Regions from separate parts of the Homo sapiens genome. Here region 1 is linked to region 2. Evidence: fine-mapped expression QTL. Tissue or cell type: whole blood. Region 2 holds a variant in brackets; the other region holds the start of a gene. All regions are shown on one strand. Distances are from middle to middle.

What was found. PIP is the estimated chance that this variant, and not a neighbour inherited with it, causes the effect.
Region 1: it holds the start of TNFRSF25, and the variant in region 2 is the best candidate, but not a certain one, in a credible set for the expression of TNFRSF25 in whole blood (INTERVAL, PIP 0.89).

Annotation. Positions count from the first base shown.
Region 1 is chr1:6,462,982-6,468,491 of GRCh38, forward strand. It overlaps TNFRSF25 (TNF receptor superfamily member 25), which reads right to left and starts at 3,192. Exons shown (of 10, transcript NM_003790.3): 1 at 3,088-3,192; 2 at 2,459-2,579; 3 at 2,107-2,241; 4 at 1,571-1,738; 5 at 1,394-1,472; 6 at 91-146. The coding sequence starts at 3,126. It overlaps PLEKHG5 (pleckstrin homology and RhoGEF domain containing G5), which reads right to left. Exons shown (of 21, transcript NM_020631.6): 20 at 4,844-5,510; 21 at 4,141-4,591. The coding sequence ends at 4,582. RefSeq lists an enhancer at 3,013-3,961.
Region 2 is chr1:6,521,277-6,526,276 of GRCh38, forward strand. NOL9 (nucleolar protein 9) reads right to left here. Exons shown (of 12, transcript NM_024654.5): 12 at 71-4,727. The coding sequence ends at 4,578. Among named protein-coding and RNA genes, the nearest start is that of NOL9, 31 kb to the right of the region's middle. The variant G/GT (reference allele first, on the strand shown) is at 2,033.

The DNA.
Region 1 (5,510 bases), 58 kb before region 2:
TGGTGGGTGTTGGGTGGTTGCCCCCCTCCTCACCCGCCTCCCCTCGGTCCATCCCAGTTCTCCCACTCGCATTCCCAGCACACCACCTACTCTGCCTCCAGCCACAGACAGCGGCACAGCGCTCTGGACAGCTCCCCAGGGTGCTCCTGCAAGGGACGGGGGTGGCCTGAGGGATGAGGGGGTGCATGCCAGGAGGGGCTCCCTAAGACTGCCCAGCATCTGCTCCATCCTAGAGACCCTTCCCTCCCCAGGCCTCTCACTCTACCCAAGAATGTTCCTGTCATTGTGTCCCTGGTAACAACCACAGACACTATTCACTGAGCTTCTTCTAGACTACATGAAGAGTCACTAGAATGTCAACCCCAAAAGGACAGGGATTTTGCCTATTTTGTCCCCTGTTGCATCCCCAGCACCTAGAACAGTGTGTAGAACATAGCAGATATTCAATAAAGACTTGAATGGAGGCCGGGCGCGGTGGCTCATGCCTGTAATCCCAGCACTTTGGGAGGCCAAGGCGGGTGGATCACGAGGTCAGGTGATCAAGACCATCTTGGCTAACACGGTGAAACCCCGTCTCTACTAAAAATACAAAAAATTAGCCGGGGGTGGTGGTGGGCTCCTGTAGTCCCAGCTACTTGGGAGGCTGAGGCAGGAGAATCACTTGAACCCAGGCAGCAGAGGTTGTAGTGAGCCAAGATCGTGCCACTGCACTCCAGCCTGGGTGACAGAGCAAGTCTCCATCTCAAAAAAAAAAAAAAAAAAAAAAAAAAAAGACTTGAATAGCTACAGAAAGTCCCTTACCTCTGATCAAAGGCCTGTGAATTAGCTGCTAACATCCCATGTTGAGAAAGGGACACCACACATCAGAGACGCGAATTCTCTGCACTTGCCCAAGATCCCCTAGAGAACTAGCAGCACAGTCCTGACTCTCAGCCCTTTGTATTTATTTATTTAATAGATTTAATATTTAATATTTAATAGATTTAATATTTATTTATTTATTTAATAGGTCTCGCTCTGTTGCCCAGGCTGAAGTGCAGTGGCACGATCATAGCTCACTGCAGCCTCAACCTCCTTCAGCCCAAGTTTTAAAGCTATATCAATGTGACTCTCTGTGTAAGTGACAAATCATCTGTAATATCTGGCTAGGATCGCTGGGGGGAATGCTGGCTGAAAGTGAAGGCAAATACCCTTATGTATCTGGCTAAGGCGGATCCAGATTGCTCTTTTGCCATCTAAGTTTGCCTGAAGTGGGGCCCACCCATCACAGGGCCAAGGCTCCCTCCTCCCTATCCCCTCTTCCTATTCCTGAACCAGCAGCACCTGCCCCACCCCAGGCCCCTGCTCTGCTCCCAGCCGCCCTTCCCTCCATCCCACGACAGCTAGGAATTACGTGGGGCAGGACACGCAGCCATCGCCATGTTCATAGAAGCCAGGCAGGCAGGTCCCACAGTCAGTATCTCTGCGGGAACCTGCAATCCAGGAGAGGCATGCGTCACCATGGGACAGGAGTGGGTCAGGCAGGGAGAAGGGGGTCTGGGAGTAGAGAGCCCTGGGTGGGGGTACTCACAGAGTAGCCGTGTGTGGCGGTGCAGGGCCCCGCAGTCTAGGCATGGTTGGCAGTAGAAGGGTGAACTGCTGACACATTGGCTGACCTGGCACTCCACAAACCAGCCTGGCTTACAGCCACAGCGGGTGTCGGCCACTGCTGAACAGTTCTCCAGCGCCACCTGGGAGGCTGGTGGGGGTGCAGGGAGATGGGGAGTGGAGAGTTAGTCAGGGCCAAAGGCTCCCATGGAGAGGCAGAGGCATTATCCCAAGATAATGGAGACAGAAATAGGCGAAAGACAGACAGGTACAGGGCTACCCTAAAAAAGAGAGAAGCTCAGAGATTAAGGCCGACCAGAGGCCAAGGCACATGGAGAGATGGGAAGGTCACCAGGAAGAGAGAAGGGGCAAGGGCACCCTGAAGGAGGATCAGGGTGGAGGGTTCTGGCAAGGGTGGGTGCAGGACCCTCACACCCCAAGTTTGGGCCCGAGCCAGCCACTTCCTTCAGAAAGGCCTGTCCTTAGGAACTCCCTGCCAAGCACTGAGAAGCCCCTCACCCTGCTCATCACAGGCCTGGCAGCGGGCACATTCAGAATTATGGTGGTTCTCCCAGGCCAAGAAGGTGTCTTGGGGACACACAAGGCAGGTGGAGTTGCCGCAGGGCTCCGTGCAAGGGGCCTTCAGGTAGTGCCCTGTGGAACCAGGCAGGGGTCAGGCAGGCAGAGGGGCTGCCCAGCAACCCCCGACCTGCTTCCCACCCTGCCCTCCCTCCCTCTTTCTCTCCAGCTCCCTACTTCTCTGTCAGCCTACCCCTACCTCCCCTGCCAGCCTCCTCTTACCTCCCGGGCCTGCCCGCCACCTCTCCAGCCCTGCCTGCCCCATGCCTCTCCCACCCCTGTGGCCACTTACCCGCTGGGCAGCCTCTGCAACAAAACAGACCAATCTTCTTGTGGAAGTCACCGGCACAGTCACACCTGGGGCTACGAGTGCCGCCCTGGGCCCGGGCCCCCAGCAGCACCAGGAGGAGCGCCTGGGGGACAGGTGCTGCTGACTCTCAGCGCAGCTGCCCACGTGGGGCCTCTCCCTGCTGCGTCTCCTCCATTTCAGAGGCCCCAGCATTTGCCCACAGAGCAGCCCACTTCCCAGGCCCCGGGCAGAAGGGGTGCCCATGGGTGGAGAGGAAACTAACTTCCTTCCCCCCGCGCACACACCAGGCTTCGGAGGGGGCGCTTACCAGCCCCTCACAAGTTTCCCCTCCACCAGAGCAGGAATCCAGCAGCGCCCCCACCCCCACCCATGCTTTCTGTTGGGGGAGGGACACTGATAATGCTCTGCCTGGGGCCCCCAGACCCTCCTGGGAGGGGTTTCCTCTCAGTGGAAGGGCTACGCCCTGGAGGAGCCTTTAACGAGATCGGAAAGGGCGGCCAACCCAGCCCCCAGTGAGGCTTGGAGTGGAGACGCGCCCGGGGCCCCTTCCTTCACCGAGGCTCTTGGGACAGGGCTCAAAGCTGCCCCTAGCCTCCTGCGTCTCAACTCACCGCCGCCACCGCCGCGCAGCCCCGCGGCCGCTGCTCCATAGCCCTCCGACGGGCGCCCAGGGGCTTCCCGGCTCCGTGCTCTCTGCCCGTCGTGGTTCCGCCTTCAGCCCCGCGCCCGCAGGGCCCGCCCCGCGCCGTCGAGAAGGGCCCGCCTGGCGGGCGGGGGGAGGCGGGGCCGCCCGAGCCCAACCGAGTCCGACCAGGTGCCCCCTCTGCTCGGCCTAGACCTGAGCTCATTAGGCGGCAGCGGACAGGCCAAGTAGAACACGCGAAGCGCTGGGCTGCCTGCTGCGACCAGGGGCACAGGATAGAGCTGCATCTCGGTCCCCACCCCGACTCTCGCCCCAACCCTGAGAACCACTTCAAGGTAGAGCCAGGGCAAGTGACTTCTCTCTCGGCCTCCGCGTCCCCAGCCATGGAGGAGGTTGGGCCAAAAGTACCGCAAGGGGCCAAGCGCAGTAGCTCAGGCCTGTAATTCTAGCACTATGGGAGGCAGAGGCGGGCGGAACACTTGGGGTCAGGAGTTCGAGACCAGCCTGACCAATATGGTGAAATGCCGTCTCTACTTAAAATACAAAAACTAGCCCGGCGTGGTGGTGCACACCTGCAGTTCCAGCTACTAGAGTGGCTGGGGCAGGAGAATCGTTTGAACCCGGGAGGCAGAGGTTGCAGTGAGCCGACATCACACCACTGCACTCCAACCTAGGTGACAGAGTGAGACTCTGTATTAAAAAAAAAAAAAAAGTTCCTGAAGGGACCCCCATGGAGGACCCACCTTCCCAAGAGGGCTGGCCTGAGTGTGGGAACTGGGCAGATTCAGCCCTGAATCCCCGGGGGGCACCTGGGGAGAGGCTCTGATGGTGGCTGAAGGTGGGGAAGTCTGGGGGTGTTGGTCTGGTGGCACCCCACACCCCATTACTTCCCAGTGCTTCCCATGGCAAGCTCCATCCGTGGCCCATCCGTGGCAAGTGGAGGAGCACAGGAACACAAGGAGGCCGCCCTGAACTCAAGTGCCCCGAGTCACTGGGCCCCAAAGCAAAGGACTCTTCCCAGTGGAGTCTAGACAAGTCTTTATAAAAGAACCAAAAGCTCAATAAATACGTAACTTCACAGAACCCAGCCCAAGCCAGGGGTGGCCTGTGGGACTGGGAAGGTGGGGGCAGGGCAGGAGTGAATCCCACTGGAGGCCAGTGAGGGTAGAAGTAGGATGGGCAGCCTAGGAGCCCAGCCCTGAAGACTCGAGCTGAGCTGGTAACTTCGGGGAGTAGGTGACGAGGGGCTGCCTGGGCAGGTGGGGTGGTACTGTGGCCTGGGCCTCCTCCACTCCATCCAGTCCGGCAAAGCGCAAATCGGGCCCGGGCGTAGGCAGGGATCCTGCCCAGCATCCGGCTCATGCATACAGGAGGCAGTAGCTGAAGCAGGTGCCGGCACGCCCCAGGAGGCAGGCTGTCTGCTGTCTCTTGGTCAATGGCACTCTTGGGGGCCTCCCTCTGCTCAGACCTCCCTACAGGGTGGGGAGGGGACAGAGTCCTTCTTTGGCTGACGCCATTCAGAGTGGCTCTGGTCACCCTCTCTTCCCCACGGCACTCCTCAGGCCCCTTCACTGCTGCCCACCACAGCCCCCTGCGCCCAGACACTGGGCAGGGTTCAGGCTCCCTCCGCCATGACCCTCCCCAAATGCGATGCTCCCAGGCATGAGTGGGCCCCCATGCCAGTGCCCTGAGCCACCTGCCCTACCCCAGTCCAGGCCACTCACGAGGCAGTGAGCGTGGAGTTAAGCAGCAGGGTGGTCCTGATTCGGTAGAGCTGGGCCAGGGTCAGCTTCCTGTGCTGGGCAGAGACCCCTGGTGGGGGCTCAGGCTGGACCCTGGGAGAGGCCCCCGAGGGCAGGTCTCCACACCTCTTCCTGTGGGAGCCTGCAGGTTCCCCGGCCAGGCAGCCGACTAGCCCAGGACCGCTGCCAGGGCTAGGGGCCCCTCGGCAATCCCAGCTGGGCCCAGCTTCCTGAGGGGAGCCCTGAGTCCTAATACCTGGGGCTGGAACAGCCAGGCAGAGCTCTGACAGGCTGCGGCTGGGGGCAGAGGGTGTCCCATGGGTGCCAGCCCCTGCCAGCAGCTGGAGGAGGCTGGCCTCGGACTTAGACTTGAGCAGGTGGGGCGGGCAGCTCAACAGCTGGACAGGGGTGCGGCGGCGGAGACGGGGCGAGGGTGGAGGGGAAGGAACTCGTGGGGACTCTGGGGCCCGAGGCACTAGCTCTGCCATTGGGCCTGGGGCCACAAAGTCTTGTAAGGAGGTTGGGGAGAGGGTGCCGTAGGCAGAGTCCATGGAGCAGGAGCGGCCGTCCACCGGACCCAGGGGCAGCAGCTCACTGGTGGGCGTGGCAGATGAGGCAGTGGTGCTGAGAGAGGTCTCATCAGACTGGG
Region 2 (5,000 bases):
AGTTTCTTCTAAGCATTTAAGTGATTACCTGGAATAAAATGACCTATCTACATAAAATTACACAACTAAATTCATGTTTTCAAAAATATTTAATGATACAAAAGTTCATCTGTTAACTGAAAAGAGCTGAACAGAAACCATACATATTTTGTAAAATACACACACACACAGCAGAACCCCAGCTGAGACACCTCACAGTGTCAGTGATTACTATGTGGTGGTGGGCTGGAGGATCATTTTCTACATGTGTAAGCTGCTTATAAAATTTTAAAAGCAACAAGTGGGGGTTTATGAAAAACTTTCAGGAATGGGTTATCTATGGTGGCCGTGGAGCTTGCTTCCTCAAGGGCTCTTTGACCACAGGAAGCTTGGTAGCAACAATTTTAAGGTGAACCTGCCAGAGGCAAGATGAGTAAGTAGCTGTGGATTCATTTAGTTTCTGCATCCCTCCAGCATGACCGTGAGTAGCACAGCCGTGGTGCCAGCCTCCTGAGTTTACCATCTCATCAGAGGCTAGCTACACACTAGGAGTTACTGACCGTTTCTACATGCCGGAGACTGTGCTACATCTCTTATAGACATGACTTCACTTACTCCTCACCCAGGAACACTGAAGGAAGGACAATTACCCAATCTTCAAAACATAAAACAGGCTCAGGCTAAGCATCTTCCTCCAAGTTACACCACTGACAAGTGGTAGAGCCAGGATTTGAACTCAGAGCTCTATAATCAAAGCCTGCTGTCTTATCCATGATCTTGCCATCCAAACCCAAAAACAAATGACCTAGGCCGGGCGCGGTGGCTCACGCCTGTAATCCCAGCACTTTGGGAGGCCAAGGTGGACGGATCACGAGGTCAGGAGCTCGAGACCAGCCTAGCCAACATAGTAAAACCCCATCTCTACTAAAAATACAAAAAAAATTAGCTAGTGTAGTGGCGGGCGCCTGTAATCCCGGATACTTTGAAAATTACATACAAAAATTACTAAGAGGCCCAGGCACAGTGTCTTATGCCTGTAATCCCAACACCTTGGGAGGCCAAGGCAGGCGGATCCCCTGAGGTTGGAAGTTCGAGACCAGCCTGACCAATAAAGTGAAACGCCATCTCTACTAAAAATACAAAAATTAGCTGGGTGTGGTGGCAGGCGCCTGTAATCCCAGCTACTTGGGAGGCTGAAGCAGGAGAATCGCTTGAACCCAGGAGGCAGAGGTTGCAGTGACCTGAGATCAGGCCACTGCACTCCAGCCTTGGCGACAGAGAGTCCGTCGCAAAAGAAAAAAACAAACAAACAAACAAAAACTAAGAGCTTTTGTAAAGAATAGCTTCAGGCCAGGCGCAGTGGCTCACGCCTGTAATCCCAGCACTTTCGGAGGCCAAGGCGGGCGGATCACGAGGTCAGGAGTTCGAGACCAGCCTGACCAACATGGTGAAACCCTGTCTCTACTAAAAATACAAAAATTAGCTGGGCGTGGTGGCATACGCCTGTAATCCCAGCTACTCAGGAGGCTGAGGCAGGAGAATCGCTTAAACCTGGGAGGCGGAAGTTGCAGTGAGCCGAGATCACTCCACTGCACCCCAGCCTGGGCGACAGAGCTAGACTCTGTCTCAAAAAAAAAAAAAAAAAAGAAATTGCTTCAGCACTTTGGGAGGCCGAGGCAAGCGGATCACAAGGTCAGGAGATCGAGACCAGCCTAGCCAATACGGTGAAACCCTATCTCTACTAAAAATATAAAAATTAGCCAGGCATGGTGGCGCTCACCTGTAATCCCAGCTACTTGGGAGGCTGGGGCAGAAGAATCACTTGAACCCGGGAGGGGAGAGGCTGTAGTGAGCCAAGGTCGTGCCACTGCACCCCAGCCTGGGTGACAGAGCGAGACTCTGTCTCAAAAAAAAAGAAAAAAAAAAAAGAATAGCTCCAATGGAGAACTCCTTACTACCTAATCTGACCCATAACAGACTGTGGAAATGATAAAAAGTCCAATCTTGTCCTTCTTCTAAATGCCCTTAAAGCCACTGCCACCAGCCGGGTGCG[G/GT]TGGCTCATGCCTGTAATCCCAACACTTTGGGAGGCCAAGGCAGGTGGATCACCTGAGGACAGGAGTTCAAAACCAGCCTGGCCAACATGGTGAAACCCCTTCTCTACTAAAAATAGAAAATCAGCCAGGCATGGTGGCGCATGCCTGTAATCCCAGCTACTCGGGAGGTTGAGGCAAGAGAATCACTTGAACCCGGGAGGCGGAGGTGGCAGTGAGCCCAGATTGCGCCACTGCACTCCAGCCTGGGCAACAAGAGCGAAACTCCATCTCAAAAAAAAAAAAAAAAAAAAAAAAGGATAAAAAGGCCACTGCCATCAATAATGGGATGAATTGTCATCCTGGAGAATGGTGCTGCTGCAGGTCTGACCGGCACAAGCTAGACCTGACAGAGGCCTTGGCTCCCTGTCTCCGAACCTCCTTCCCTAAACCCTGTACAGCTTCCTGGGCCAACTCTAGCCCCAGTACGGCCACCTGACCCACAGCTGATAGCTCCCTCTAGAGGCAACGATTTTTCTTTACTGATAGGGACTGAAGAAAAAGACTTGACCTTCATACAGGCCGCATTTAAAGCCTGAAGGCAAACCTAGATTGAATGCAAATGCAATTACAGGGCACCAGTTTCATTCTTCCAGAGCCTTGCTGCAAATGACCTCCAGTGAGTATAACTGTAAGATACACGAAAGTGGAGAAAGGCAAAACATTGATGGTGATGGATTGTCTTAAAATTCTTTACAAGGCCAGCACAGTAAAACATCATATGAATGAGCCAGATTTCAACATAAATAAGGGGCAACTAAGAAGCTAGACTCAATTGTCTCAAAGGTATCAAAACTAATCACCATAGCAAGGTTTCCTGTGCTTATTTTAAGTCCTTTGCTGTTGGGTCTAAGAGGTGCTGAGGGGCCACTGTAAAATACTAAAGACAATGATAACCAACAGTTGTATAAGTGTATATAAGTGTTAAAACCCACACATCCTAATAGTCTTACAATGTGATCATGCTGGGAAGATGGAATTCTGTCAAAGCGGTGGTCACAATACCAGTTTGAACCTCAGCCCCAGGAAGTATCCTGCTGTCTTAAATGCAGAAATGATGTGACCTGGTCCCATCACCCGTTTACACAAACCACTTCCAACCTAGAGGACAGAGTCGGAAGCACCAGGGAGAACGTGGAGAATGGCAGTCTGGTCACCAGCCGCCGGCACCCCCAGGAAAAAGCTCTAAATGGCAGGGTTGTTCATAGGTGCAAGTTCAGGTCCAGCCTCCCACAGGCAATAATGGAGCTTTCCCAAGAGCTGGTCTGCCAGTCCTTCTTCCTTCAAAACAGCCCAGTCTCCAGCTCTGCCCTGTGGTTGTCTCTGGCCTCAGATCAGAAGTCAATTTGGACAAATCTACTTTTATAAGAGCCCCCAGAAGAGGTTTTCCAGATTATTATTTTTTTTTTTTGAGATGGAGTCTTGCTCTTGTTGCCCAGGCTGGAGTGCAGTGGCGTGACCTCGGCTCACTGCAAGCTCCGCCTCCTGGGTTCATGCCATTCTCCTGCCTCAGCCTCCTGAGTAGCTGGGACTATAGGCGCCCACCACCACGCCCAGCTAGTTTTTTGTATTTTTAGTAGAGACGGAGTTTCACTGTGTTAGCCAGGATGGTCTCAATCTCCTGACCTCGTGAACCGCCTGCCTTGGCCTCCCAAAGTGCTGGAATTACAGGCGTGAGCCACTGCGCCTGGCCCCGAGGTTTTCCAGATTTGAAAGAAATTTCCTCAGCATAAAACCTCAGGATTAAAAAAAAGGAAGGGCTCTTGGGTCCAAATTTATATCTATCAAACCCGTTTAAATTTTTCTTTTCTTTTTTAAAAGATAAGGTCTTACTCTGTCGCTCAGGCTGGAGTAGTTGGTGTACTCCAGCCTGGAACTCCGAGGCTCAAGCAATCCTCCCGCCTCAGCCTCCCAAAGTGCTAGGATTACAGGTGTGCATGAGCCACCATGCCCAGCCCTATCTATTAAACCTTGATTGAATATAACAGACCAAGTACAACTGCACCAAATGGATGGGCTGTAACCATCCACACTGGCTCCAAGGAAGCAGACCGCTGGACCCCAGCTCTGCACATGGCTCAGGCAAGGCCCGTGGCGAGCCCTTGTATCCATTATGCTTGAGATCCTGCAGGTCGGCCTTCTTCCTTCCTTCTCGGTACATTGTAATGGCCCCAGTTTCCTTATTTTTATCCTGATTCTAATAACCAGGTCCCTGAAGAACTTTCTGAGGAATCTCTGTTTTAATGGCACACAAACTGTTCTCTGCTGTTTTACTCCCTCTGGACAGCAAGTATGAGTATCACACAGAAGACTAGAACAAATTCTAGCTCATGCAGCTTTAAAAGAGAAACTTAAGACTACTATATGACATTCACGAATTACACAAAAAACACTGTTGCTAATAAGGGCACCATTCATGGCCATGAAACTCCATCATGTCTCTTGTGGTCAGGCTTGAGACAAAGCTTTCTGGTAGGAAAGTTTCTTCCCTTATTAAAAACGCGAGCATCACTTCATTTTTCGACAGAACTTAGGTCTTCGGTATGGTTTCTCTTTATGTGCCTCCTCAGGTTCTCTTGCTCCAATTTTCTCTGATGCTCCAGGAAGTTTAAAATTGTAATCCGTTGTGACATAAGGTACTGTCCCTTCGATCCCACGCTGAAACGGAAACACAGAGAATGCATGGAAACACTCCAGGTCCAGCCCAGAGGGGTTTACAGTGCTCTCTCACACCTAGAAGGCAGTGTCATGGTGATGGTCTGGGTGGGGACTTCTCACTTTTAAGGCATTTGATCCCTTCCTTCAGAGCCCCCTTTAATCAACTGGCTCGGTAACAAACGTGCCAAGGCCTCCCTTCTGTCCCATTCCATCAACACAGCAAACAGCGTGAGGCAGAGTGGGGGTGCAGTGTGCGTCCCTTTCAAATGAGGG